Linked DNA regions of Homo sapiens. The gene in region 1 interacts genetically with each later gene. Each region holds a gene or a part of one and is shown in the gene's direction. Other genes may lie near its edges. The genes, in order: TGFB1 and HIF1A.

Evidence for each region.
Region 2: of TGFB1 (region 1) and HIF1A, changing one enhances a phenotype caused by changing the other (phenotypic enhancement), as found in Homo sapiens cells (one study listed by BioGRID).

What each region holds. Positions count from the first base shown.
Region 1 is NC_000019.10:41,331,318-41,346,750, reverse strand, and holds part of TGFB1 (transforming growth factor beta-1 proprotein preproprotein), read left to right. Parts: intron 1-1,886; coding exon 1,887-2,004; intron 2,005-4,503; coding exon 4,504-4,581; intron 4,582-4,717; coding exon of another isoform or gene 4,718-4,720; coding exon 4,721-4,868; intron 4,869-14,469; coding exon 14,470-14,623; intron 14,624-15,433. UniProt on the Homo sapiens protein: Transforming growth factor beta-1 proprotein: Precursor of the Latency-associated peptide (LAP) and Transforming growth factor beta-1 (TGF-beta-1) chains, which constitute the regulatory and active subunit of TGF-beta-1, respectively.
Region 2 is NC_000014.9:61,733,270-61,748,702, forward strand, and holds the end of HIF1A (hypoxia-inducible factor 1-alpha), read left to right. Parts: intron 1-868; coding exon 869-1,016; intron 1,017-3,619; coding exon 3,620-3,840; intron 3,841-4,817; coding exon 4,818-5,104; intron 5,105-7,235; coding exon 7,236-7,358; intron 7,359-7,485; coding exon 7,486-7,919; intron 7,920-11,435; coding exon 11,436-11,544; intron 11,545-12,421; coding exon 12,422-12,548; intron 12,549-13,664; coding exon 13,665-13,816; 3' UTR 13,817-14,989; downstream 14,990-15,433.

The sequences.
Region 1 (15,433 bases):
CTGTCTCAAAAAAATAAAAATGAAAAAGAAATCCTCATTCTCACTGGCCATATTTCTAGTACTCTATAGTCACATGTGGTTAGCAGCTACTATTTTGGATGTTGCAGATAAAGCACATTTCCAGAAAGTTCTTTAGGACAGCACTGCTCTAGAAGATAGGGAGCTTCCAAGAGGACTGGGGCATCTGGAAGGGCTGGAGGCTCTAGCAGTTTCTATGAGCTAGAATCCATATCAGAGGGAATGTTAACTCATAGGATGGTAGATTTCAGACTTTCACAGTGAGAGAACTTTGTCCTATGTTAGCTTGGCTTCTTGGAGTCTGGGGAATTCAGCTTTATTCTGCAGTCCCTGGAGTGGACTATCCAGCCCCAGAAAATTCTTCTTTTTTTTGTGTGTGTGTGTGATGGAGTTTTGCTCCTGTTGCCCAGGCTGGAGTGCAATGGCACCATCTTGGCTCACCACAACCTTTGCTTCCTGGGTTCAAGCGATTCTCCTGCCTCAGCCACCCGAGCAGCTGGGATTACAGGCATGCACCACCACACCTAGCTAATTTTGTATTTTTAGTAGAGACGGTGTTTCTCCATATTGGTCAGGCTGGTCTCGAACTTCTGACCTCTGGTGATCCACCCTCCTCGGCCTCCCAAAGTGCTGGGATTACAAGCGTGAGCGACTGTGCCTGGCCCAGAAAATTATTCTACACAGATGTTGGGTACCTGCAGCATCTAGGTGCGGCATGGCAGACTCTTGGGTTTATAGAACATTAGTCTTCTAAAGCTTCTCAGGCTCTAGAAGTGGAAATCTTGGGATATTATCAAACATTTGAATCACAAAATGACTTTTTTTTTTTTTGAGACAGAGTCTCACTCTGTCACCCTGGCTAGAGTGCAGTGGTGCAATCTCGGCTCACTGCAACCTCTGTGTCTTGGGTTCAAGTGATTCTCCTGCCTCAGCCTCCTGAGTAGCTGGGATTACAGGCGTGTGCCACCACGCCTGGCTAATTTTTGTATTTTTAGTAGAGACGAGGTTTCACTTTGTTGGCCAGGCTGGTCTTGAACTCCTGACCTCAGGAGATCCACCCGCCTTGGCCTCCCAAAGTGCTGGGATAACAGGCGTGAGCCACCGTGCCCAGCCGGAATCATTAGAAATGACTTCTAAGTTACTGAGAATTCAGGGTGTCAAATTTGCAGAACCGTATGCTCAGTAAACCCCAGAATGTTTGCAGCAGAATTTTATTTTATTTATTATTATTATTTTGAGACGAAGTCTCGTCCTGTCGCCCAGGCTGGAGTGCAGTGGCGTGATCTTGGCTCACTGCAGTCTGTGTCTCCCGGGCTCAAGCAATTCTCCTGCCTCAGCCTCCCAAATAGTGGCGACTACAGGCGTGTGCCACCATGCCTGGCTAATTTTTGTATTTTTAGTAGAGATGGGGTTTCACTATGTTGGCCAGGCTGGTCTTGAACTCCTGACCTCAAGTGATCCACCCACCTTGGGCTCCCAAAGTGCTGGGATTACAGGCGTGAGCCACTGCGCCCGGCCCAGAATGTTAGCAGCAGAATTTTAGCATTGTGGGCTGTCCACGCTGAGTGGGGCTTAGCATTTCACCAATGAGGAAACAGGCCTCGAGAAGGCAAGAAAACACCTTCGGCTGAGCTGTGTGAAGGTGACTTGACCGCAGCCTGAGCTTTTTCTCCACCCCTCCTCTCATGGGTACTGTTGGGGAGGATGGGTGCCACAGGACCACACAGGTGGCTGTCTGAGAGGGTAGTGCCTGGGAACTTTCTGGAAGCCTGTTTGGGGAAGCAGATGGGGTGAAGGATTCAGTTAGTGTATGTGGGGTCGTGACACCATCTACCCACTGTCTCTCTCCTGCCTTCATCATCCTCTAGAAATACAGCAACAATTCCTGGCGATACCTCAGCAACCGGCTGCTGGCACCCAGCGACTCGCCAGAGTGGTTATCTTTTGATGTCACCGGAGTTGTGCGGCAGTGGTTGAGCCGTGGAGGTGAGGATTACTTGTGTGTCCCACCCCTGTTTCTCCCTGGGGTCCACCCCATTGTTTGTCCTGGGGTCACTTTGCCTAGGACCCCTCTCCGCCCCATACTGGTGTGAAAGTGCTGAGACCTGGCTCCCCTCTGTGGCATGGAAACCTGAGTGATTGGCTAATCTGTTTCCTGAGCACCTCTCTGCCCTGCCCTGTGATGGGTGATGCCAAGGACACAGCAATGACCAAAACAGCCCCATCCTTGCCCTCACAGAGCTCATATAGTCCATTGGCTAGGTAGCTGGGGAACAGACCTGTAAGGCAGTGATGACCCAGAGTGGGTGGGACTGGGATGGGGAGCCCAAAGGAGGTACCTGACCCAGCCCAGAATCAGGGAGGGCTTCCTGGAGGAGGGGCACCATAGCTGATGTTGAAGGGATGAGTAGAATGGTCAGGAAAAGGAGAGGTGTAAGAGTATTCTGGGGCTGGGCATGGTGGCTTATGCCTATAATCCCAGCACTTTTGAAGGCCAAGGAGGATGGATCACTGGAGCTCAGGAGTTTTGAGAGCAGCCTGGGCAACATGGCGAAACCCGGTCTCTACACAAAAATACAAAAATTAGCCATGCATGCTGTTACGTGCCTGTAGTTCCAGCTGCTTGGGAGACTGAGGTGGGAGAATCACCTGAGCCTGGGAGGTCGAGGCTGCAGTGAGTCATAATCACACTACTGCAATCCAGCCTACATGAAAGAGTGAGATCCCATCTCAAAAAAAAAAAAAAAAAAAAGATTCCAGGCAAAGGGAACAGCCTGTGCAAAGGCCTGGAGGCCAGGGAGAGCCTAACTAACTCATTTGATCTGTCCAGGAGATGATTGTCTCTGTCTGGTTTCTGGCAGGGCCCATGGTGCCCCTATCTCTCTCCCTCACCTCCCTCTCATTTATGCTTTTATTCAATAATTGCCCACAGGTTCCTGCTGTGTGCCTGGCCATGTGCTGGGTGGTGTGGGGGACATAGTGATAACCAAGACAGCCCTCAGTTCTGCCCTCATGGGGCCCACAGTCACTTCTGGACACCTAAGAGATCTTGTCAAGGCCCCACCAGGCAGGAATGACCTAGAATGATCAAGAATGGGATGGGGAGGCACCAGCAGGGAGGACAAGGCTGGGACAGGGAGGCATGCAGGATGGGGGAACGCCCTAAGTGCTGTTGGGAGCCCAGAGAAGGCACCTGGACCCATCTGGGGAGTCTAGGAGGGCTTGCTGGGTGAGGGTGATTGTGTGGAGACTCACAGGATAAATAGTAGTTTGGCCACATGAAAAAAAAGGGATTAGGGGGCCTGGCATGGTGGCTCACGCCTGTAATCCCAGCACTTTGAGAGGCCGAGGTGGGTGGATCACCTGAGATCGGGAGTTCGAGACCAGCCTGACCAACATGGAGAAACCCCGTCTCTACTAAAAATACATAATTAGCTCGGCGTGGTGATGCATGCCTGTAATCCCAGCTACTCGGGAGGCTGAGGCAGGAGAATTGCTTGAACCCAGGAGGTGGAGGTTTCAGTGAGCCAAGATCGTGCCATTGCACTCCAGCCTGGGCAACAACAGTGAAACTCCGTCTCAAAAAAAAAAAAGAAAAGAAAAAGAAAAAATAGGGATTAGGGAGCAGGTGGGCACTGGGAGGAGTGTCCTGGGCTGTTCGACAAAGGCCTAGAAGGAGCTCATCTGTCTTGGTCAATGCTGAGTCCCAAGCACACAGCACAGGCTTCGGCACATTGTAGGAGCCTAGAAAACATCATTCACTCATTCATTCAAGAGATTGATGCTGGCTGGGTGCAGTGGCTCATGCCTGTAATCCCAGCACTTCGGGAGGCCAGGGCAGGAGGATTGCTTGAGCCCAGCCTGGGCAACATAGTGAGACCTCTGTCTCTACAGAGAATTTAAAAAGTAGCCGTGTAGGCCGGATGCAGTGGCTCAAGCCTGTAATCCCAGCACTTTGGGATGCCAAGGCAGGCGGATCACCTGAGGTCAGGAGTTTGAGACCAGCCTGGCCAGCATGGTGAAACCCCATCTCTACTAAAAATACAAAAAATTAGCCGGGTGTGGTGGCGCATGCCTGTTATCCCAGCTACTTGGGAGGCTGAGGCAGGAGAATCGTTTGAACCTGGGAGGTGGAGGTTGCAGTGAGCTGATATCACGCCACTGAACTCCAGCCTGGGCAACAGAGCCAGACTCCATCTCAAAAAAAAAAAAAAAATTAGCCATGCGTGGTAGCACGCGCCTGTGGTCCCAGCTACTCGGGAGGCTGAGATGGGAGGATTGCTTGGGCCTTGGAGATTGAGGCTGCGAGACCTTGTCTCAAAAAAAAAAAAAAAAAAAAAAAGAGAGAGCTGCAGTGAGAGGGCAGAGTGGGGTGGGTGGGGGAGGCAGGAAGGAAGCCCCTGGGGTTTGCTCCTTCCTTCCTCTTCCTCCAGGGGCTGGGTGAGCTGCACTCTCAGACTGGCTTCCCTCTCGCCACTCCTACAGGGGAAATTGAGGGCTTTCGCCTTAGCGCCCACTGCTCCTGTGACAGCAGGGATAACACACTGCAAGTGGACATCAACGGTGAGGCCTGCTTCCCCGGCCATGCCCAGTTGTGACGTGTGTGCGTGTGTGTGTTCCCATCTGCCCCACGCCCCACTTATCTATCCCTCTGAGAGTGTGTGTGTATGTCCCCTATCCCCTGACTCCCACACCAAAGCAGGGTTCACTACCGGCCGCCGAGGTGACCTGGCCACCATTCATGGCATGAACCGGCCTTTCCTGCTTCTCATGGCCACCCCGCTGGAGAGGGCCCAGCATCTGCAAAGCTCCCGGCACCGCCGAGCCCTGGACACCAACTATTGCTTCAGGTGAGCCTTGTAGCCTGGATGGAGGCCTTCCAGGCTGGGGGCATGACTGCCATCTGCTGACCAGGTGCTCCAGGTTGGACACCTGGCTGCTGCTGTGCTTGGGCTGAGCATCTGTCTCCTTTAGCTTGGAGGGCTCAGGGGATGAGGTCTGGGTGTAAGAACCAGGAGTCTTGTGCCAGGTGCGGTGGCTCACGCCTGTAATCCCAACACTTTGGGAGGCTGAGGCAGGTGGATCACCTGAAGTGAGGAGTTTGAGACCTGTCTGGCCAACATGGTGAAACCCGTCTCTACTAAAAATCCAAAAATTAGCCAGGCGTGGTGGGCGCCTATAATCCCAGCCACAAAAAACAAAAAAAGAACTGGGAGTCTTGTAATGTTGGGATCAGGTTCCTTTTTTTTTTTTTTTTTTTTTTTTTGAGACAGAGTCTCGCTCTGTCACCTGGGCTGGAGTGCAGTGGCGCTATCTTGATTCACTGCAAGCTCCACCTCCCGGGTTCACACGATTCTCCTGTCTCAGCCTCCCGAGTAGCTAGGACTACAGGCACGTGCCACCACGCCCAGCTAATTTTTTTGTATTTTTAGTAGAGATGGGGTTTCACTGTGTTAGCCAGGATGGTCTCCATCTCCTGACCTCGTGATACACCCACCTCAGCCTCCCAAAGTGCTGGGATTACAGGCGTGAGCCAACGCGCCCGGCCTAATTTTTTGTATCTTTAGTAGAGACTGGGTTTCACCATGTTAGCCAGGATGGTCTTGATCTCCTGACCTCGTGATCCGCCTGCCTCAGCCTCCCGAAGTGCTGGGATTACAGGTGTGAGCCACCACGCCCAGCCTTGCTTTCTTGCTGGAGTGTTGGAATCACAGAATGTTAGAAAGTTGAACCCTGTGATTGTTGGAATTCAAAGTTGGAAGGTCACCATCTTGAATCCCTAAATTGTTGGCAGGTTGAGGTTCTAGAATGCTGGGATTCTAGAATGCTAGAATTTGGTGTTAATTACTGAAATGGAAAATGTCGGACTCAAGGAAAGCTGAAACATTGGAATCCTAGAATTTGGGGATTCAAAATGGGAAGATGGCCCATGTGGAATTCCTGCACCACTGGCCAATTGTGGATACCAGTGTTGGCAGATTGGAGTCCTTGAATATTGGGCTCACAGTGGTAGAATTCTGTTTTGAAATATTCACATCCACAAATGTTGGAGTTGGAGAAAGCAGAATATTGGTATCTCAGCATGTTGGAACTCAGTGTTGGAATGTTAGAATATTAGAATGCTGGGATTTTATTAATAGAAAGTGGCAGCAGGCTGGGCGCGGTGGCTCACGCCTATAATTCCAGCACTTTGGGAGGCTGAGGTGGGCGGATCCCTGAGGTCTGGAGTTCAAGACCAGCCTGGCCAACATGGTGAAACCCCATCTCTATTAAAAATACAAAAATTAGCCAGGTGTGGTGGCTGGCACCTGTAATCCCAGCTACTCGGCTGGGATTACGGCTATCCAGGTACCCAGGCTGGGGCAGGAGAATCACTGGAACCTCGGGGGTGGAGGTTGCAGTGAACCGAGATCGCGCCACTGCACTCCGGCCTGGGCAATGATGCGAGACTCCATCTAAAAAAAAAAAAAAAAAAAAAAAAGAAAGAAAGTGTCAGTTTGAACCTCTTGAGTGATGGCTCAGAACTTTGGAATGTTGGGATGCAATACTGGCATACTGGAATTCAGGAATGCCAAGATCCTCAAAGGTTGGAAAGGGGGAATCCTAGAGAGTTGAAGATGCTGTCAGAATGTTAGAATCATAAGATGCTGGAATGCTAATACTGCAATCTAAGAAAGCTGAAATGTTGGATTCCTAGAAAGTTGAAATGGAGAGTTAGAATGTTGTAAATTTAGAGTGATCATCTGACCTTATTCCTCCCTTGCTTAAAATATTTTGGTCCTGTCTCTGGGCTTTGTTACCGGCTGTTTCCCTGCCAGAAAATCAGCCCTGCTCCCAGGCTCCTTCACCACCAGATCTTAGCGCCATCAGCCCAGCAACGCTGTCAATGAACAAATTGAGGTCTTTTTTGAGACAGAGTCTCGCTCTGTTGCCCAGGCTGGAGTGCAGTGGCGTGATCTCGGCTCACTGCAACCTCCGCCTCCCAGGTTCAAGTGATTCTCCTGCCTCAGCCTCCTGAGTAGCTGGGATTACAGGCGTGTGCCACCACACCCGGCTAATTTTTGGTTTTTTTAGTAGACACTGGGTTTCACCATGTTGGTCAGGCTGGTCTCGAACTCCTGACCTCGTGATCCACCCGCCTCGGCCTCCCAAAGTGCTGGGATTACAGGCATGAACCACTGCGCCCGGCCACAAATTGAGGTCTTGAGTGCCAACAGCTCCTGACATTACAAAGGGAGATAGCCAGCCATGTCAGCCTCCGTAGGGAGGGACCCAATGTTGCCTAGGAAGTCTTGGCAAAAAATCAAACCTGAAGGCCAGGTGCGGTGGCTCATGCCTGTAATCCCAGCACTTTGGGAGGCCAAGGCAGGCAGATCGCTTGAGCTTAGGAGTTCAAGACCAGCTTGTGCAACATGTTAAAACCCTGCCTCTGTACAAGAAATACAAAAAAACTAGCTGGCTGGGTGGTGTGTGCCTGTAGTCCCAGCTACTTGGGAGGCTGAGGCAGGAGTGCTTGAGCCTAGGAGGTTGTGGCTGCAGTCAGCCAGGATCACGCCACTGCATTTCAGGACAGAGCAGGACCTTGTCTCAGGAAAAAAAAAAAAAAATCAAACCTGAATCTGATCAGGACTGTAGATCCTAACAGTTTTCTAGAAAGACAGGAACAGAGGAAATGGTCAGCAAAACTCAGACTGCAAGAAACCTCACCCAGTTTCTTCATCAAATACAATGCAAAGAAGGGGAAAGCACACACACACACACACGTACCCCCCATGCAACCAAAAATTCACATACAAGTTTTGACTCCCCAAAAACTTAACTATTAATAGCCTACTGTGGACTGGAATTCTGCTTTATCCACAACATAAACAGTTGATTAATACTTTTTTTTTTTTTTGGAGACAGAGTCTCTGTCATTCAGGCTGGAGTGCAGTGGTGCGGTCTCGGCTCACTGCAGCTTCTGCCTCCCGGGTTCAAGTGATTCTCTTGCTTCAGCCTCCCGAGTAGCTGGGACCACAGGTGCCCACCGCCACGCCCAGCTAATTTTTTGTATTTTAGTAGAGATGGGGTTTCACCGTATTGCCCAGGCTGGTCTTGAACTCCTGAGGTCAGGCAATCCGCCCACCTCAGCCTCCCAAAGTGCTAGGATTACAGGCATGAGCCACTGCTCCCGGCCGAATAATACATATTTTGCATGTTTTATGTATTATGTCCTATATCCCCTTTTTTTTTTTTTGAGACGGAGTTTCGCTGTTGTCACTCAGGCTGGAGTGTAATGGCACAATCTCAGCTCACGGCAACCTCCACCTCCCGGGGGTTCAAGCAATTCTCCTGCTTCAGCCTCCTGAGTAGTTGGGATTATAGGCACCTGCCACCATGCCCGGCTAACTTTTGTATTTTTAGTAGAGGTGGGGTTTCACCATGTTGGCCAGGCTGGTCTTGAACTCCTGACCTCAAGTGATCTACCCGCCTCAGCCTCCCAAAGTGCTGGGATTGCAGGGGTGAGCCACGCACCCGGCCGTATTCTTTGTTTTTTTTTTTGAGACAGAGTCTAGCTGTGTCACCCAGGCTGGAGTGCAGTGAAGTGATCTCAGCTCACTGCAACCTCCGCCTCCCAGGTTCAAGCAATTCTCCTGCCTCAGTCTCCCAAATAGCTGTGATTTCAGGCATCCGCCATCGCACCCGGGTAATTTTTGTATTTTTAGTAGAGACGGGGTTTCACCATGTTGGCCAGGCTGGTCTTGAACTCCTGACCTCAGGTGATCCATCAGCCTCGGCCTCCCAAAGTGCTGGCCTTACAGGCTTGAACCACTGCTCCCGGCCTATGCCTGCATTTTAAAAATAAGATAGAGAAAAGAAAATGTCCTTAAGAAAATCATAAGGAAGAGGAAGTATATTTTCCATTCATTGAGTGGAAGTGGCTTATCATAAAGGTCTTCATGTTGAGTAGGCTGAGGAGGAGGAAGAAAAGGTGTTGGTCTTGCTGTCTCAGGGCAGAGGTGGAAGAAAAATTCACCTGTAAGTGGTGAATTTTGTAAGAGGACCCATGTAGTTCAAACCCATGTCCAAGGGTCAGTCTATATATAGTTGACCCTGAATATATATACAGAGAGAGAGAGAGATGATTTTGTAGATTTTGAAAAAAGTCCTAAGAGAGGCCAGGTATGGTAGCTCACACCCGTAATCCCAGCACTTTGGGAGGCTGAGGCAGGTGGATCACTTGAGGTCAGGAGTTGGAGACCAGCCTGGCCAACATGGTGAAACCCTGTCTGTACTAAAAATACAAAAATCAGGCCAGCTGTCGTGGCTCACACCTGTAATCCCAGCACTTTGGGAGGCCAAGGTGGGTGGACCACCTGAGGTCAGGAGTTCGAGACCAGTCTGGCCAACGTGGTGAAACCTCCTCTCTACTAAAAATTCAAAAATGAGCCAGGCGTGGTGGCGGGCCCTGTAATCCCAGCTACTCTTGAGGCTGAGGCAGGAGAACTGCTTGAACCCAGGAAGTGGAGGTTGCAGTGAGCCGAGGTCGCGCCATTGCACTCCAGCCTGGGCAACAAGAGTGAGACTCCCGTCTCAAAAAAATAAATAAATAATTAAAAATACAAAAATTAGCAGGGTATGGTGGCAGGCGCCTGTAGTCTTAGCTACTTGGGAGACTGAGGCAGGAGAATCACTTGAACCTGGGAGGCACAGGTTGCAGTGACCCGAGATTGCACCACTTCACTGCATCCTGGGTGACAGAGTGAGACTCCATCTCAAAAATTAAAAAAAAAAAAAAATCCTAAGAGACATATCAACCAATTGCAATGTGTAGACCTTACTTGAATCCTTATTTACACAGGCTTAAAAAAAAAAGATATTTATGAGACAGTTGGGTAAATGTGAACTCTGTCTAGATATTCCTCTAGATATCAAGGAATTGTTAATTTTCTTACATGGTATTGTGACTGTGTTTTAAAGTAGTCTTAATTAGAGATACATTTGAAATATTTATGGATGAAGCAACACGGTGGATTGCATGTGCTTTGAGATAAACCATTGTCGGCTGGCTGCAGTGGCTCACAGCTATAATCCCACCACTTTGGGAGGCCAAGGCAGGAGGATTGCTTGAGCCTAAGAGTTGGAGACCAGCCTGGGCAATATGGTGAAACCCCATCTCCCAAAAAAAAAAATATGAAAAGTAGCTGGGCCTGGTGGTGTGTACCTTTTGTCCCAGCTACTCAGGAGGCTGAGGTGGGAGGTTGGCTTGAGCCCCAGGAGCTGGAGGCCACAGTGAGCTGTGATTGCACCACTGCACTCCAGCCTGGGTGACAGAGTGAGATCCTGTCTCAAAAAAAAAAAAAAAAGAGATAGTGGATAGGGGTAGAGATGCAATGGAAATTGGCCATGAGTTGGTCATTGTTGAAGCTGCTTTTGTGTACATCTGAAACTTTCCAGCTGGACGCGGTGGCTCACACCTGTAATCCCAGCACTTTGGAAGGCTGAGGCGGGTGGATCACATGAGGTCAGGAGTTCGAGACCAGCCTGTCCAACATGGTGAAACCCTGTCTCTACTAAAAATACAGAAAAATTAGCTGGGTATGGTGGTGTGTGCCTGTAATCCCAGCTACTTGGGAGGCTGAGCCAGGAGAATTGCTTGAACTTGGGACATGGAGGTTGCAGTGAGCCAAGATTGCACCACTGCACTCCAGCCTGGGGCAACAGAGCAAGACTCCATCTCAAAAAAAAAAAAAAAAAACTTTCATAGGAAAATTTGTTCTTAAGGCAGCTCGAACACTACCTCCTTCCTAACCCCTTTCTCCAACATCCAAGATGGATGTGAGGCCTCTGGGCTCCCCTGGGGCCCTAAGTAGATCTTTGACTCAACAAACAGTCTCTGTTGGGTCTTTTATTTATAAAAAGTTTTGTAGCGACAGGGTCTCACTATGCTCCCCAGGCTGGTCTTAAACTCCTTGGGCTCAAGCGATTCACCGGTCTTGGCTTCCCAAAGTGCTGAGATTACAGGCGTGAGTCACTGCACCTGGCCTAGGTCTTGAGAGACTGGACGGAAGAGGCTTGGCAAGGGCAAGGGCTGTGGGTATCCCAAGGCCCGGTGCAGGGTAGGCCCCGAATGTGTGCTGAAAAAATGAGTCAGAGGATCACCTAGACGGCTTGTTCAACACGGACTGTTGTTCCCAGTCCTGCACACAATTTCTGATTTCAGTGGCCTGGGGTGCCACCTGAGAATCTGCATTTCCCATAGTTCCCAGGTGATGCTGCCGCTGGTCCTGGGAGCTCACGTGGAGAGCTGCTGACTTGGATAACAGTATCACAGATTGTTCAAATCCTAGGATCTCAGAACCCCAGCTAGGGTTGAACTGCATATTAAAGATGATTCTGAGCCGGGTGCGGTGGCTCATGCCTGTAATCCCAGCACTTTGGGAGGCCGAGGTGGGTGGGTCACCTGAGGTCAGGAGTTTGAGACCAGCCTGACCAACATGGTGAAACCCAGCCTCTACTAAAAATACAAAAAATTAGCCAGGCATGGTGGCACATGCCTGTAATCCCAGGTACTTGAGAGGCTGAGGCAGGAGAATTGCTTGAACCCGGGAGACGGAGGTTGCAGTGAGCTGAGATCACACCATCGCACTCCAGCCTGGGCAACAGGAGGGAAACTCCATCTCAAAAAAAAAAAAAGATTCCGGACACTAGTTCTTCCCCTTTTGTGAGTTCAGAACTTCCTGTGAGAAAGTGAAAGCCAGGACTCTTTTTCCCAGAAATACATGCATACATACACACATGTGCATATGATCTCAGGCACTCATGGCCCTCCCTAAGCCTGCCCATGATGGCCCCTTGGCCCTCAGCTTAACACCTTATTTTATCTAGTAGCTCCTACCTCTGAACAGATGAGGAAACTGAGGTCCAACCAAATTGGGTGGTACGGGCTGAGTTCACAGGGATCTCAGTTTCTTGACTTCCTTCTCAGGCTTCTGTGGCTCTTGGAAAGGCTTTATCTTGCCTCTAGGTTATCCGGTGCCACTTGAAGTTGGGTTCAAGCGATTCTCCTGCCTCAGACTCCCCAGTAGCTGGGATTACAGGTGCCCGCCACCAGGTCCAGCTAATTTTTGAATTTTTAGTAAAGACAGGGTCCTCAAGTCTGCCTGCCCTAGCCTCCCAAAGTGCCGGGATGACAGGCGTGAGCCACCGTGCCTGGCTGGCCCCACCAATCTATGAGCAGAGGTTGCAGTGAGCCAAGATTGCACCACTGCACTCCAGCCTGGGTGACGGAGCAAGACTCTGTCTCAAAAAAAAAAAAAAAAAAAAAAGGCATTGTCAACTTTTTCTTTTCTTTTCTTTCTTTTTTCTTTTCTTTTCAAGACAGAGTCTCACCCTGTTGCCCTGGGTGGAGTGCAGTGGCACGATCTTGGCTCACTGCAACCTCTGCTTCTTGGGTTCAAGCAGATTCTTGTGCCTCAGCCTCCTGAGTAGCTGGGATTACAGACAAGCACCGCCACACCCAGCTAATTTTTGTATTTTTAGTAGAGACGGGGTTTCGCCATGTTGGTCAGGCTGGTCTCAATCTCCTGATCTCAGGTGATCCACCCGCCTTGGCCTCCCAAAGTGCTGGGATTACAGGCGTGAGCCACTGCACCCGGCCTCTTTGACAGTTCTAAGAAGTAAAATAAACCAGAAGAAGGCAGGCAGAGAGTAATAGATATTGGGAACTGTTATTTTTCCTATTCTGATTTAAATTCCTTTATTATGGAAAATTTCAAATGTATACAAAAGCAATGAAGATAATGAATGCCCGTAAACTCTCATCCAGCGTCATCGGTAATTAAGATTTTGCCCCATTTCAAATGCAGACATTTTTATATTTTCTTGCATAACTGCAATACCGTATTGCACTAAATGGAACTAACAGTCACTTGGATATTTTGGAAAGGATGGCTCAGAAAGGTATCTCTGAGGAGGTGATGTTCAGTCATGTAACTGATATTTACTAGTACCTACTGCATTCCAGACACTGCTTTAGGAGTTAAGGGTCCCTGAGTGAAGGACATTTGAGCTAAGGTTTAAATGAAGTGAAGGGGCCAGGTGTGGTGGCTCATGCCAGTAATCCCAATGCTTTGGGAGGCCGAGGCGTGCGGATCGTTTGAGCCCAAGTTCGACACCAGCCTCAGCAACATAGTGAGACCGTGTCTCTAAAAAGAATAACAAATTAAAAAGAATAAATAGGCCAGATGCAGTGGCTCAGGTCTGTAATACCAGCACTTTGGGAGGCTGAGGTGGGCGGATCACAAGGTCAGGAGTTCGAGACCAGCCTGGCCAACATGGTGAAACCCTGTCTCTACTAAAAAGACAAAAAAATTAGCCGGGCATGGTGGCACACGCCTGTAATCCCAGCTACTCGGAAGGCTGAGGCAGGAGAATCGCTTGAACCTGGGAGGCGGAGGTTGCAGTGAGCCGAGATCATGCCACTGCACTCCAGCCTGGCAGACAGAGTGAGACTCTGTCTCAAAAAAAAAAAAAAAAAAAAATAGAAAAAAAAAGAAGAAATGAAGTGAAGGAACAAGCTGGAGTGGGTATCTGTGGGACTAGCAAGGCAGGCAGAGGGAACAGCAGATGCAGGAGCCCCGAAATAAGACTGTCTGAGGAACAGACAGGACGCCAGTGTGGCTGGAGTGGAGTAGGCGTGAGAGAGGGAGTTGAGATCAGCCAGATTTGATAGCACCTTGTGGCTCACGGTGAGGACTTGGGCATTTGCCGTGAGATGGAGCCAGGTTCAGAGCAGAGGAGTGACAAGACAATTTATAGCATGCCCATGGAGGGCAGAGATTTCTGTCTCTTTTTTAAAAAAATTGAAAAAAAATTTTGTAGAGACAGGGTCTTGCACTTTGTTGTCCAGGCTGGCATGCAGTGGTGTTATCATAGTTCACTGCAACCTCGAACTCCTCGACTCCAGCGATCCTCCCACTTCATCCTCCCAAAGTGCTGGGATTAAAGGTGTGAGCCACCATGCCTAGCCTATTTCTATCTGTTTCATTTGTCCTCAGTCCACAGTAGATCCCAGCCCAGCACACAGTAGTAGTTCAATAAACATTTGTTGCACAAATAGAGCAGATCAGTTTACATGGAGCTGTGTTATTTTGTATGTTCCAGGGTGTGGCATGCCATGATTTATTTAGCCCCCCCGTGGATGGTCATCTGGCTTCTTACAGGCTTGTCTTAAGCATTGCGTGAAATTAATTATTACATTGCTCTTAGCACTGGAGGAAGTGCTTAATCTGTGTTAGTGATTATCATGACTATTTGTGTTGTTATTAACACAGTGGGTGCAAGGGAGACCCAGATGGAGATAGGGCTGGGGGGGCAACCTAGGGTGACACACGCACCTGGGGAGGAGGGGCATGTGGCTTCTATGGTGGTAGCCCCTCCCTGCCCCTGACGCGTCTCTCCTGCCTGCAGCTCCACGGAGAAGAACTGCTGCGTGCGGCAGCTGTACATTGACTTCCGCAAGGACCTCGGCTGGAAGTGGATCCACGAGCCCAAGGGCTACCATGCCAACTTCTGCCTCGGGCCCTGCCCCTACATTTGGAGCCTGGACACGCAGTACAGCAAGGTACGTCTGGCCCACCGGGCTACGAGATGCGCTTGGGGGGAGCCAGGACGGAGGAAGAGGAGAGAGAAAGAGAAGTAAAGTCAGAGAGGTGAGTTGGCAGGATGGGGAGAAAGAGAGGGATGGGGTGGGGAGGGGAATGAATAAAGAGATGGGGAGAGAGGCAGGAAGCTAGAGAGGGGCTCTGAGCAGGGGCCAGAGGGAGATGAGCTATGAAGACCCACAGAGTGAAGTAACAGAGGGATGGGGGTGAAGGGGAGAAGAGAGACAGGGAGATGGAAGGAAAAACGCAGAAATGGAGAGACAAAATGAGAGAGACAGATACAGACACAGAGTTAGGCCAAGGAGAGACAAAGACAGATACACAACAAGGCAAGAGGCGAAGATGAGGAGGGACAGAGACTGAGAAAGAAAATCAGGCGGGCGCGGCGGCTCACGATGGTAATACCAACACTTTGGGACGCTGAAGCAGGAGGATCGCTTGAGCCCAGGAGTTCGAGAGTAGCCCAGGCAGCAGACTGAGATCCCATCTCTACCAAAAAAAAAAAAAAAAAAAAAAAAAAAGCTAGGAGTGGTGGCGCTTGCCTGTGGTTGGAGCTACTCCGGAGGCTGAGGCGGGAGGATGGCTTGCGCTCAGGAGGTTGAGGCTGCAGCGAGCCATGATCGTGCCACTATACTCCAGCCTGGGTGGCAGAGCGAGACCCAGTCTCAAAACAAAAAGAAAATCAGACAGGTGGGGAGAGACAGAATAAGATAGGATGTTAGAAGATAAGAGAGACCGAATTGGAGATGGGAAGAGGGGATGCGGGGAGA
Region 2 (15,433 bases), on another chromosome or scaffold:
TAGACAGGGTTTTGCCATGTTGGCCAGGCTGGTCTCGAACTCCTGACCTCAGGTTATCCACCTGCCTTGGCACCCGGCCTCTTTTAGTTTCTTTAAAATGTACAATTAAATTATTTTTTACTATAGTCACCCAAAACAAGTACCTTTGACATAAGATTTGATTCTGAATTTTACTCAAATGAATGTTAAGATCCCCAAGATAAGTTAAACTTTGGACTATCTCACCTGTTTAATCTGTACCTATGCATGACTTCCCACTGTGCTTGAGGATACCTGAATATCACTGAGTTTGTGTGACTGATCAGCCTTGAACTCAAGAGTAAATCCAAGTCTGCAGTCAGGACACCCCAATCCTCAAAATAATACCATCATTAGCATTTATTTAGTACTTTCTCCCAAATCAGTATTTAATTTAAATTGCCAAAAGACTTACAATGTGGTATCAATTTATATTTAAATATGCTACATATAGCTTTTTAAAGCATCTTTGGTTCTCTGGAAACCATAGTCAGAATTTAAGGAAGTTATTGTGGCACCATTTTCTTGAAAAAGGCTATTGATTATTCTCTAATCTGACACCAACCTAAGTCATTAAAGGAATTTTAGTTACTGAAGATTGTATATTCATGAACTCTTCACTTAGCTCACTGGCAGCAAAGGAGTTTTATTTAGGGGGTTTGAAAAAGGAAATGGGTACATTTTCAGCTATTCTGGGACGCACTGTCAGAATGTAAGCAGTTACAACTGATTCCACTAAATAAACATTTGTTTTCCAAAACAATGATGAACATTCAGCATCTGTTCATTTAATTGAAAATTCAAAGTTAAAATATTTTCTCTGCATGATTCTTTTTCTTTTCCCCCCTAGTGTTTACTAAAGGACAAGTCACCACAGGACAGTACAGGATGCTTGCCAAAAGAGGTGGATATGTCTGGGTTGAAACTCAAGCAACTGTCATATATAACACCAAGAATTCTCAACCACAGTGCATTGTATGTGTGAATTACGTTGTGAGGTAAGTAAGTTTGAGAAATAAACATTTTTGGGGAACAAATAGTAATTCTTTTTGGATACTCTGTTCATTTATAGGAAGATAAGATAATAAATATTAACTAAATTTTAATTCTTTTACATCGCTACCAAATTATTATTTTCTATACTCTGACCTAGGTTTCCAGTCCAGCTATTCCACAGTGATGCTGCTAAACACTGTCAGTAGTTGTCTATCCCCATACCTTCACTCCTATTTTTAAAAAGACCATGAAAAAAATACCAGATCCATTGATTGGTTTGGTCTAATTATACAGATATCGGCATATACTATCTCAAGACAGCTGTGTTCTTTTTGTAGGAAGAATCCTGGCCTAGATTTGTATCATAGCTCTACCACTCATTAGCTCCCTGACCTTGGGGAAGTCTCTTCATTTTTCTGAATTTCATCTATGTAGATAATCCTTCAGAAGGTTATAATGAAAATTAAATGAAATTCTATGAGATTAGGGAGGGGGGAGGGATAGCATTAGGAGATATACTTAATGTGAATGATGAGTTAATGGATGTAGCACACCAACATGGCACATGTATACATATGTAACAAACCTGCACGTTGTGCACATGCACCCTAGAACTTAAAGTATAATTTAAAAAAGAAAAGAAATTCTATGAGATTAATAAGCTATATGATGTAATACATGGCTCTTGTATATTCATGAACTCTTCACTTAGCTCTTTGGCTTGTGAATATTATGTACATCAAAATTTAATTTTTCATTTGATCTATTTTACTAGACTCCTGCCCCATCTAGTCTACCTGTCCACATTATTACCACATTCTAGTCCATCTTGCCCATTACTACCAGGCTAAGCTTTCTAGTGTGGATATGTCATCATCTTATTTTCCTTAGAATTTTAGCGATCTTTTTATCATTTCCAAGATAAACACTTGCCTAGGTGTACAGCATCCTTGTTTACCATCATACTCACGCATTAGAGATTTAGCCTTCCCTTTAAAATCTAGGGTCACTCCTCTTAGGAAGACTTTGGGCAGTTTTTATTTTTGCTACTTCTGACACCATCCTTTAATGTTTTAATATTAGTGCCACAGAGTTCTTTTGTGACTTTACCATTATGTAAGAATCTTCCACTTGGAATGTCTTTCTCTTCCTCACACCCCAGTCTGCCTAGCAAATGCCACTTGATCCCAAGTATCAGCTTGTTAGCTTCTCAGTGAAGCAAGCCTTCTCTATTTTAGCAGTTATCACAGTGTATTTTAATTGTTTACATATCTACTTTCACAATGGGTTATAAATTTCTTAAGGTCAAGGGTTGGCTATTTTAATCTTTGCATTATCAGTTCATTTCAGATAGTGAACATTTAATACGTTAATTAAAGGAATAATTTACATTTAAGCCAAACGTGAAGATAAACTATTGCTCATCATCCCTCTTCAGCCGTATCCTGTAGGTGGTATCACCTTATATTCTTACCACCAAAGAAAATATGGCCCCTCTCTTAGAAAGATCTTAATCATTTATCTGTGTATCTTTAGGACTATCCTTAGATCATGCCTCACATATTGATGCCAAAGAGTTCTTTTGTGCCAATTTCATAATGTGTGTCAGCACAACAATTCTGAAGATTTGTTGGTGTCTTTCATGTACTTGACTACAAATTGCCTTGCCATTACTACTCTTCTCAAAGGATATCTGAAATTCTTTTTTTCTTTTTTTTTTTTGAGATGGAGTCTCACTGTCACCCAGGCTGGAGTGCAGTGGCGTGATCTTGGCTCACTCCATTTCCCGAGCTCAAGTGATTCTCATGCCTCAGCCTCCCAAGTAGCTGGGACTACAGGTGTGCACCACCACACCGGGCTAATTTTTTGTATTTTTAGTAGAGACAGGGTTTTGCCATGTTGGCCAGGCTCTTGAACTCCCAGGCTCAAGCGATCCACCCGCCTCAGCCTCCCAAAGTCCTGGGATTACAGGCATGAGCCACCACGCCCAGCCTGGATATCTGAAATTCTTAACTGAAATTAGTCAAATTATCTTGTACTGGGGATTTTTTTTTTAATTTCAACTTTTATTTTTGATTCAGGGGATACATGCATAGGTTTGTTACATGGGTATATCATGTGATGCTGAGGTTTGGGGTACAATTGATCCTGTCACCCAGGTAGTGAGCATAATACCCAACAGTTGTTCAACCCTTGCCCCTCTCCCCTAGTAGTCCTCAGTGTCTATTGATGCCATCTTTATGTCCACAAGTAACCCAGTGTTTAGCTCCCACTTACAAGTGAGAACATGCAGCATTTGGTTTTCTGTTCCTGGGTTATCTCACTTAGGATAATGGTCTCTGGATGCATCCATGTTGCTGCAAAGGACATTATTTCATTCTTTTTTATGGTTGCATACTGTGGATTTTATTGGGTCTTTATTTTGTATTAGCATTTTAAAACCCTAAATGTGACACAGTACGCATGAGTGATCATGCATCTCAAGAAATCTTGAAATGTTCCTGTCCATAAAGCAGAATTTTTTAAGAGACCATTTCACAGTCTCCCTTCCCCTCACTGTATCAAGTGCTCATTTGTGAATTACCAATTTCTCTTGTTTTGACAGTGGTATTATTCAGCACGACTTGATTTTCTCCCTTCAACAAACAGAATGTGTCCTTAAACCGGTTGAATCTTCAGATATGAAAATGACTCAGCTATTCACCAAAGTTGAATCAGAAGATACAAGTAGCCTCTTTGACAAACTTAAGAAGGAACCTGATGCTTTAACTTTGCTGGCCCCAGCCGCTGGAGACACAATCATATCTTTAGATTTTGGCAGCAACGGTGAGTAGTTATTTTTGTTAATCCCCTAAATTGTGTCTGTTGCTACAAGCCCCATTTCAACTAAACATTACTTTACGGTTTTTGTTGGTAATCATTTGGACATTACAAGCTAATATATGTTTATAGTTTTCTTAAATGTATTTGCTTAAATATTTTTGCCCCCGTAATTTCTTACCATTCTTGCTTTTTTATACTGTTGGAAATTGTGCTTCAAAGTGTCCTTAAGGTATTTCTTCTTCCCACATAAATTTTTCCTGGCTACTCTATTTCTGTATCCTGCTGTCAGATTTTCTCCACAGTTTAGCAGAGTTATATGGAAGTAGGCATTGTTGCATTAAAGGATAAAAAAGTAGTCATACTATAACATCAAGCATTGAAGATGAAAACTGCAATTTTAAAGTAGAGAACATTTTAATGTATAAAAAGGTTGGTATTGCCTTTTGTCTTTTATGCCATAGAGATTAAGACGCGGTATCAATAGTGGATTGTAAAGGTAACTCAGACTTATGGTTATACTATACTATTGTATGTAAACTTTCTGATGAAGGAAAATTTGGTGACATTTTGTTGTTTGATGAATTAGACAAACCTTTTGTGAAAAAGAACATAAATTTTTTATATGTGAAAATCCTTGTGGCCGGGCGCAGTGGCTCACGCCTGTAATCCCAGCACTTTGGGAGGCCGAGGCGGGTGGATCACTTGAGGTTAGGAGTTCGAGACCAGCCTGGCCACCATGGTGAAACCCCGTCTCTACCAAAAATACAAAAGTTAGCTGGGCGTGGTGGTGTGCGCCTGTAATCCCAGCTACTTGGGAGGCTGAGGCAGGGGAATTGCTTGAACCTGGGAGGCAGAGGTTGCAGTGAGCCAAGATTGCGCCATTGCACTCCAGCCTGGGCAACAGAGCAAGACTCTGTCTTGGGTAAAAAAAAAAAAAAATCCTTCTATACTTTAGATTGACTCATATTTTTTCCCCACAGACACAGAAACTGATGACCAGCAACTTGAGGAAGTACCATTATATAATGATGTAATGCTCCCCTCACCCAACGAAAAATTACAGAATATAAATTTGGCAATGTCTCCATTACCCACCGCTGAAACGCCAAAGCCACTTCGAAGTAGTGCTGACCCTGCACTCAATCAAGAAGTTGCATTAAAATTAGAACCAAATCCAGAGTCACTGGAACTTTCTTTTACCATGCCCCAGATTCAGGATCAGACACCTAGTCCTTCCGATGGAAGCACTAGACAAAGTTCACCTGAGGTAGGTGTCATGATATAATCAGAAAGGGACAACTTTCAGATTTTAACATTCAAGAATGTATTTATAAGTTTGATTCAAACACTTATTTGAACCACAAATTACATTTGTGTGTGTGTTTGAATTTTAGCACTTTAAAATTATTGCAAGAGCTACTGCCTAACCTAGACCTGAGCACATGTTTTAGGCTCAAAGATAGTCAGGAACATGGGAAGAAACTAGCTTAATATAAACCAAAAGGTGAAACGTACATTGTTTCTCTATTATTTATATCAGTAGGACAAAAACATCTTGAATTTGGACATTTAAAGAGAATAGTACTAAGTGTGCTCAAGGTAGCTACAGCCTATACCTGTTACCCCTTTTAGTTTGTTTTATTGTGTTTTGTTTTGTTTTGAGAAAGAGTCTCACTATCACCCAGGCTGGAGTGCAGTGGTGCAATCACAGCCTCAACCTCCCAGGCTCAAATGATTCTCCCACCTCAGCCTCCCAAGTAGCTGGGACTACAGGCCTGCATCACCATGCCTGGCTAATTTTTTAACCTTTTTTTGTGTGTGTGTGTGGAGTTGGGGTTCTCACTATGTTGCTCAGGCTGGTTTTAAACTCCTGGGCTCAAGCGATCCTCCTGCCTTGGCCTCCCAAAGTACTAGGATTACAGGCGTGAGCTACCATGCCTGGCCCATTACCCCTTTGAGTTGGAGAACTGTCTGGTAGCAATAGACTTACGAGGGTTTAAATGGGAAAGGACCTTATAAATTCTTTGCCCAATTTAGTCTAATTTCCATCACTATTTTGAAATTTTGGGTAAGTATAATATGAAAATAACAAGTGTTACATAAAATAAATACTTAGTAACTGGTCTTTTTTATTCTGGATCTGTCTTGATATTAATTGTCCTATGAACACAAAAATAATCTTTAAAGGCTAGGCTGGCCAAGACTTAGAGATATCACACAGGGCTCTATTTCTAAATCTAGAATGATTCCATTTTAGGGCTTCCTACATCTAAAAATATGCTCAGGAGTAGGGCAACTTAGATCTGAACATTATAACTTGATAAATGAGGCATAAATAAGCTTTAATAAGTGGTAAATAATTCTACATTAGGTATTTGTTGAATAAAACTGACAAGCTAAGAGTAGGGGATTTGACATCTCACAGCCTTGTGTTGAATGAATATATATCCTATGCTCTGGTTGCTTAATTTACCCAGAAAAAAAAATGTTTGATTCATCTTGGTTTTTATCTAACAAAAGTAAATCTAACAAAAACGTTAGAATGAGGAAAGCAAAATTTCTTGTTTAGAATACACAGCTATAGTTTTTTGTTAAACTTCTTGCCCAGAACTCTTAAAATAGTAATAATGTACATTCGTTCAGGTATATGCAGGTAAAATAACTTAGGTTTCTACTCCCACCCCCGACAGTAACAGTGAGATTTTTAGGTAGCTCAGTCACCACAGGAGTGTGCCTTCTCAGTTCAAAGGTAAATTCCAGTGAATGTAGCATCTAGTTAATTGGTCAATTAGGTACCATTGTGGGATGTGAATTACCAAATAGGTTTTATTCTTTAGAATAAGGTGTTTCTTTTCATCTCAATTTTGTAAATGATGTTATATTACATAGTCAGAAATATATATATTGGCAAAATTAGTTACCAGTATAAGCTTCAAAATGTCACTATTTTCACAAATTTTTTTTTTTTTTTTTTTTTTTGACATGGAGTCTCACTCTGTCGCCAGGCTGGAGTGCAGTGGCATGATCTTGGCTCACTGCAACCTCTGCCTCCCAGGTTCAAGTGATTCTCCTGCCTCAGCCTCCTGAGTAGCTGGGATTACAGGCGTTTGCCACCATGCCTAGCTAATTTTTGTATTTTTAGTAGAGACGAGGTTTCACCATGTTGGCCAGGATGGTCTCGATCTCTTGACCTCATTATCCCTCCACCTTGGCTTCCCAAAGTGCTGGGATTACAGGCGTGAGCCACTGAGCCCGGCCTAGTTAAATAAAATTTGATAAACACGATGGACTTGGTTGTGTGTTTTCTGGTTTTTCTGAGATCTAGTTTGAAAATTCTGACAACTAGCAAAGTATATGGAAGCTTCTTCAGGAAATAGTAAACATATTTCTTTTTACAGCCTAATAGTCCCAGTGAATATTGTTTTTATGTGGATAGTGATATGGTCAATGAATTCAAGTTGGAATTGGTAGAAAAACTTTTTGCTGAAGACACAGAAGCAAAGAACCCATTTTCTACTCAGGTATATGAACTTATTTGTTTTATATTAAATTTCATTAATTTTTAGTCTGAAGTGACTTTGAGTTTCACTTGTTTTTTATTTATAAGGTGTGGCCATTGTAAAAACTCATGTATTTGCTGTTTTAAAGGACACAGATTTAGACTTGGAGATGTTAGCTCCCTATATCCCAATGGATGATGACTTCCAGTTACGTTCCTTCGATCAGTTGTCACCATTAGAAAGCAGTTCCGCAAGCCCTGAAAGCGCAAGTCCTCAAAGCACAGTTACAGTATTCCAGCAGACTCAAATACAAGAACCTACTGCTAATGCCACCACTACCACTGCCACCACTGATGAATTAAAAACAGTGACAAAAGACCGTATGGAAGACATTAAAATATTGATTGCATCTCCATCTCCTACCCACATACATAAAGAAACTACTAGTGCCACATCATCACCATATAGAGATACTCAAAGTCGGACAGCCTCACCAAACAGAGCAGGAAAAGGAGTCATAGAACAGACAGAAAAATCTCATCCAAGAAGCCCTAACGTGTTATCTGTCGCTTTGAGTCAAAGGTATTTATATGTAACATTCAAGTTATAGTTCTTTTATTATTTTTGAGATAAATGTATGTGATAGTACATGATTTTTAAACTTATAGCAAACTTTCTGATATATATGCCCTAACGCAAATTCTTGAGAACTCAAAAAACTTTCTAAATTAACCTCATATATTTTTTCTTTTTCTTTCTTTTTTTTTTTTTTGAGACAGAGTCTCGCTTTGTCGCCCAGGCTGGAGTGCAATGGCATGGCACCATCTCAGCTCACGGCAACCTCTGCCTCCTGGGTGCAAGAGATTCTCCTGCCTCAGCCTCCCGAGTAGCTGGGATTACAGGCATGCACCACCACGCCCGGCTGATTTTTTTGGTATTTTTCATAGAGACAGGGTTTCTCCACGTTGGTCAGGCTGGTCTCAAACTCCCGACTTCAGGTGATCCGCCTGCCTCAGCCTCCGAAAGAGCTGGGATTACAGGTGTGAGCCACCATGCCCGCTCCTATTTTTTCTAAAATAATTATAAATTCTAAAATTACCTATCTAAATGGAGGAGGGTCTTCTGACACCTTTAAAATAAAATCCAGCTCAGTACTGTAAATGTGTTTACAGAACTTGTTTAAAGTTCTTACAGTTGTTTAAATCAGACTAGTTAACTACCCTCACTACTTAGATGCTTCCATTTCTTAGAGCTCTTTTTTAAGCTTATCTGAAGAAAAGCCCTTCCAATTTAAGGGTTATTTCCAATTGCACATTCCAAATTGAGCCTTCCATCTTCAGCATTCAATATAGATATTTACAGGCCCCTCTTTTAAAATTTTATTATAGTTAACTTGTATTAAAGTTGCTTTTATTTTTCATTACGTATTTGTAGAACATTAGCTATATATATATTGCAGGCTACATAGGTTTTCAAACTGTACAACAGGAATCTAAGCATGAATTGTTACTTCTATGGAGCTAGTTCAAACAAACATATGGACATGACCCAATTTTTAAGTTATACTTTCTGTATATAATTTGTAAGGGGATTTCACATATTTTAAGTTTGAGGCTATAGCTAGAAGAAATTAAGTTTTATCTAATAAGTGTGTGGAAAAGGGAAATGATTCCTTCTCTACTATGTCTAGACTAAGCCAGATATCAATAGCAATAGGAAAGAACCACTGTCGTAGCCAGAACACATAGCTTTTTTCCCTGCCTAACATTCCCACCTTGACCTAGAGTGCTGGGAGAGGTCTTTTCCCTAAGCTTGGAAAAGACATTGGGGCTTTAGATGAACTCAGAAGTACTTTACATTACTTTATTTACTGTGTCACTTACTCACTTTTGACTCTGAGCTCCACGAGGGCAATCACAGTGTCTTGGGCATTTTAGTGATACTAATACTTAGCTCATGACCTAATGTGTAGTACTTCCTCAATAAATGGTTGTTGAGGCAGGGCGCAGTGGCTCATCACTGTAATCTCAGCACTTTGGGAGGCTGAAGCGGGTGGATCACCTGAGGCCAAGAGTTTCAGACCAGCCTGGCCAACATGGTGAAACCCGGTCTACTAAAAATGCAAAAATTAGCTGGGCGTGGTGGCACGTGCCTGTAATCCCAGCTACTTTGGGAGGTTGAGGCAGGAGAATTGCTTGAACCCTGGAGGTGGAGGCTGCAGTGAGCCGAGATCGTGCCATTGCACTCCAGCCTGGGCGAGAAGAGTGAAACTCGGTTTCAAAAAAAAAAAAAAAAAAAAAAGTTGTTGGACTGACAGATGCATGAATACAGTAGTAAAAATGACAATCACTTATAAGTTACAGTTTACTATCAGCTACAGAGGATGGGATATCCAGTTTTCTGAACAACTGTTCTCTTGTACTTGTCAAAGCCAAAGTGTAACAACACATCAAGTCACTTTAGCAATTTATTTTTGAGACGGAGTTTTGCTCTTGTTGCCCAGGCTGGAGTGCAATGGCGTGATCTCGGATCTTGGCTCACCGCAACTGCCGCCTCGCTGGTTCAAGCAAATCTCGTGCCTCAGCCTCCCGAGTAGCTGGGATTACAGGCATGCACCACCACACCCAGCTAATTTTGTATTTTTAGTAGAGACAGTGTTTCTCCAGGTTGATCAGGCTGGTCTCAAACTCCCGACCTCAGGTGATCCACCTGCCTCAGCCTCCCAAAGTGCTGGGATGACAGTTGTGAGCCACTGTGCCCAGCTAGCAACTGTTTTTAAACATTAGTTCCAATGTAGTGTACACTGAAAACTTTTATGAAAGGAATTTCAAAAATTAAGATAAACCATTAAAAACGTAATTACTAAGTACTACTACTACTACAATGATATTTACATAATAGACTGAGTTACATTTCATAAAGACAATATATCTGTATAAGAATTTTTAAACTTCCCTGTCTATATAATAGAAGTTTTAGAGAAATTTTTTAAAAACCAAAGAAAACTGCAAAATAAGATCACTTACCTATTTGGCATTCTCAACTGTCTGGAACAGCAAGGAGCCATTATGATTATGCATTTGGTTTGTGGGGTGTCTTGAAAAGTCAAAATAATGTAACAAAGCTGATGTACTTTACTCATTAGAACAATTCTTCACAATTTAATATTAATTTTAGATATACATAGTTCATGTTTGATAACCAGATCAATACTGAGTGAAAAATAGCATAGTGGGAAGAGCAGGGGAGGGGAGGTAGGGATCTGGAGACCTAGAGTGTACTTCCATATTGCAACTAGTGAGCAGTAGGACTTTGAGAAAGTTACCCAATAGGCCTCAGGGTTCTAATTTATAAAATGGGTATGATATGCCTGCCTTATCTGTCTTGGGAACTTAAGTAAGGTTAAAATGAACTAATGAACTTGAAATGTTTTATAAACTGAAAATGCTATACGAATGTGAGATTGATCTTGTATTTCAATAGTCCCAACAATATCACTGCATTGTTATATTAGGTGGAATAAAAGGACAATATTTAACTGTTTTGACTCTACAATAGTGTCAATTTAGTTGTGTTCAGCTCTATTTTATAAAATAGGGATACGCATACTGTAGAAAATTTCCTGTTAAATTAAGCTTTGACGGCCAGGTGCTCACGCCTGTAATCCCAGCACTTTGGGAGGCCAAGGTGGGCAGATCACTTGCGCTCAGGAGTTTGAGACCAGCCTGAGCAACATAGTGAAATCCTGTCTCTACAAAAATATGTATATATAAATTAGTCATAATCCCAGCTACTTGAGAGGCTGAGGTGGGAGGATCACTTGATTCCAGAGGCAGGGCTTGGTTGCAGTAAGCAGAGATCACGTCTCTGCACTCCAGCCTGGCTGACAGAGTAAGACCGTGTTTCACCAAAAAAAAAAAAAAAAAATTAAGCTTTTACTTTTAAGATGATAAACTTTAGTGATCAGGAAAGTTATCTTATGTATATTATATTCCTTAATATTGGAGAACTAAAGAATTATGTATTTTCTTTAAAAGCGCTCACTGGATATTTTTTTTAAAAACGCTATATTTTCATTTAGAATTTTTTTCTTTTCAGAACTACAGTTCCTGAGGAAGAACTAAATCCAAAGATACTAGCTTTGCAGAATGCTCAGAGAAAGCGAAAAATGGAACATGATGGTTCACTTTTTCAAGCAGTAGGAATTGTAAGTATGAGTAGTAGGTTTTGCTTTTCTAGCTAATGTGCTATTTCGTGTGTGTGTGTGTGTGTGTGTGTGTGTGTGTGTTTCCACGTTTCTTCCAAATAGTAAAGTTATATTTTCAGAAGTTATACATTGGGTTTTTTTACTCTGTATGCACTGGTTTTTAAAAATACAAATGTTTAATACATACATTCTTGGTATAAAAATTCCAAACAATTCCAGTGTATTTTGAGTTAAAAAGTGAAGTTCTCCCCTTACTCCACCCTGAATATCACCACCAATCTCATTCTCTTCCCTTTAAGTTACTTTGCCTTATTAAAAGAACTGCTATTGGCCAGGCACAGTGCCTCACGCCTGTAATCCCAGCACTTTGGGAGGCCAAGATGAGGATCACTTGAGGTCAGGAGTTCGAGACCAGCCTGGCCAACTTGGTGAAACCCTGTCTCTACTAAAAATACAAAAATTAGCCAGGCGTGTTGGTGCACAACTATAATCCCAGCCACTCTGGAGGCTGAGGCAGGAGAATAGCTTGAACCCGGGAGGTGGAGGTTGCGATGAGCTGAGATCAGGCCACTGCACTCCAGCCTGGGTAAGAGAGTGAGAGTCCATCTCATATTTAAAAAAGAACTGCTATGTTTTGGGGTAAGTCAATGGTGGTATAATACATTCTGATATTTTCAAACTAAATTAACTGGAAAGTATTTATAGACAGAATGGTCATAATGGATGACAAATAACTTAAGAAAGAATTCAAAATAATTTAGGGTAGTATTTAAGAAACTGCCTATAATGTTATTAAATTTACACCAATTTCAAGGTTTTTGGTTGTTTAAAAAAAAAATTCAACAAACTAAACTTGAAATAACTTTACTGTTTATAGGGAACATTATTACAGCAGCCAGACGATCATGCAGCTACTACATCACTTTCTTGGAAACGTGTAAAAGGATGCAAATCTAGTGAACAGAATGGAATGGAGCAAAAGACAATTATTTTAATACCCTCTGGTTAGTTTATTCTTTTTGACCTTGAACATCACAAAGACAAAATACATGAAACATTTTTATTTAGGAGCTTTAATCTAAGTGAGAATGACTTTGGTTCCTTAGCAAGATTAAAAAGTAAAGTTGTGGCTGGGCGCGGTGGCTCACACCTGTAATCCCAGCACTTTGGGAGGCCGAGGCAGCCAGATCATCTGAGGTCAGGAGTTGGAGACCAGCCTGGCCACCATGGTGAAACCCCGTCTCTACTAAAAATACAAAAATTAGCTGGGCGTGGTGGCGGGCGCCTGTAATCCCAGCTACTTGGGAGGCTGAGGCATGAGAATTGCTTGAACCCGGAAGGCAGAGGTTGCAGTGAGCCAAGATGGCACCACTGCACTCCAGCCTGGGCGACAAGGGTGAGACTCTGCCTCAAAAAAAAAAAAAAAAAAAAGTACAGTTGTATTTCATGTGATGGTCTTAATACAGAGATTAACATTTCAAGGTGGAGCTTTTCATTTTTAGTAATTTTCTTTGATTTCTCTATGTCCATGTGCTGTCAATATTGATAGAAGCTGAAATTTGTGAACTTTTATGACTTCTTTTTTTTTTTTTTTTTTTTTTGAGACAGGGTCTCGCTCTGTTGCCCAGGCCTGGAGTGCAGTGGCATGATCATAGCTCACTGCAGTCTCAAACTCCTGTGCTCAAGCTCAAGCAATCATCCTACCTCAGCCTCCTGAGTAGCTCGCACTACAGACATGCCTCACCACACCCGGTTGCTTTTTGTAGAGATGGGGTCTCACTATGTTGCCTAGGCTGGTTTCAAACTCCTGGCCTCAAGTGATCCTCCTGCCTCAGCCTGTGCTAGGATTACAGGCATCAGCTTTGATGCCCACCATATTTATGCCTTTTTCCAAATTGTTATTTCTTTGTGCCTTTATTGTATCCTGTAAACATTTCTGACACAGCAACAGTATCACTGGATTATACTTACTTTTTAACATAGTTGTGGTTTTGCCAGGTAAACTAAAAACCCTTCCAGAATTTTGCTTTATTTTCTATGATACCTAACACATTGTGGGTGTTTAATAAATATTCATTGACTAGATGAATGTATACTTAGGTATCTCTTTTGTTTTTCAGATTTAGCATGTAGACTGCTGGGGCAATCAATGGATGAAAGTGGATTACCACAGCTGACCAGTTATGATTGTGAAGTTAATGCTCCTATACAAGGCAGCAGAAACCTACTGCAGGGTGAAGAATTACTCAGAGCTTTGGATCAAGTTAACTGAGCTTTTTCTTAATTTCATTCCTTTTTTTGGACACTGGTGGCTCATTACCTAAAGCAGTCTATTTATATTTTCTACATCTAATTTTAGAAGCCTGGCTACAATACTGCACAAACTTGGTTAGTTCAATTTTGATCCCCTTTCTACTTAATTTACATTAATGCTCTTTTTTAGTATGTTCTTTAATGCTGGATCACAGACAGCTCATTTTCTCAGTTTTTTGGTATTTAAACCATTGCATTGCAGTAGCATCATTTTAAAAAATGCACCTTTTTATTTATTTATTTTTGGCTAGGGAGTTTATCCCTTTTTCGAATTATTTTTAAGAAGATGCCAATATAATTTTTGTAAGAAGGCAGTAACCTTTCATCATGATCATAGGCAGTTGAAAAATTTTTACACCTTTTTTTTCACATTTTACATAAATAATAATGCTTTGCCAGCAGTACGTGGTAGCCACAATTGCACAATATATTTTCTTAAAAAATACCAGCAGTTACTCATGGAATATATTCTGCGTTTATAAAACTAGTTTTTAAGAAGAAATTTTTTTTGGCCTATGAAATTGTTAAACCTGGAACATGACATTGTTAATCATATAATAATGATTCTTAAATGCTGTATGGTTTATTATTTAAATGGGTAAAGCCATTTACATAATATAGAAAGATATGCATATATCTAGAAGGTATGTGGCATTTATTTGGATAAAATTCTCAATTCAGAGAAATCATCTGATGTTTCTATAGTCACTTTGCCAGCTCAAAAGAAAACAATACCCTATGTAGTTGTGGAAGTTTATGCTAATATTGTGTAACTGATATTAAACCTAAATGTTCTGCCTACCCTGTTGGTATAAAGATATTTTGAGCAGACTGTAAACAAGAAAAAAAAAATCATGCATTCTTAGCAAAATTGCCTAGTATGTTAATTTGCTCAAAATACAATGTTTGATTTTATGCACTTTGTCGCTATTAACATCCTTTTTTTCATGTAGATTTCAATAATTGAGTAATTTTAGAAGCATTATTTTAGGAATATATAGTTGTCACAGTAAATATCTTGTTTTTTCTATGTACATTGTACAAATTTTTCATTCCTTTTGCTCTTTGTGGTTGGATCTAACACTAACTGTATTGTTTTGTTACATCAAATAAACATCTTCTGTGGACCAGGCCCCTTTGATCAGCTTTTATGTTCAAATATTAATAATATTTGCTTCAACACCTCCAACTCATAAAATTGTTTACCAACAATTTAAGCACTTATGAAAATTACATGGTACTGGTTATTTCTACATTTATCTTAGTGCCATCACCTTAATGTATGTTGAGTCCCTAAATGTCATGTTAAATAATAACAACCATAATATCCCATTGAAAAGAGTATGTTGTTAGAAAAGAAACATCATTTTTAAGTTTCTGAGCCTATTAAAATGCTCAAACACAAAATATTAGTATTTTTAAAATATGAATGGGATGAGTGAAGCAGTTCTCAGCATTATAGTCACAATGTTACAAAGGCTAGAGCTTCTCTGAAGATTTCTAATCTGTTCCCATTAACAGATTAATAAATTTAGACTTCAAATGAATAATTTGCCCAAGCTTTAAAAGTAATAGA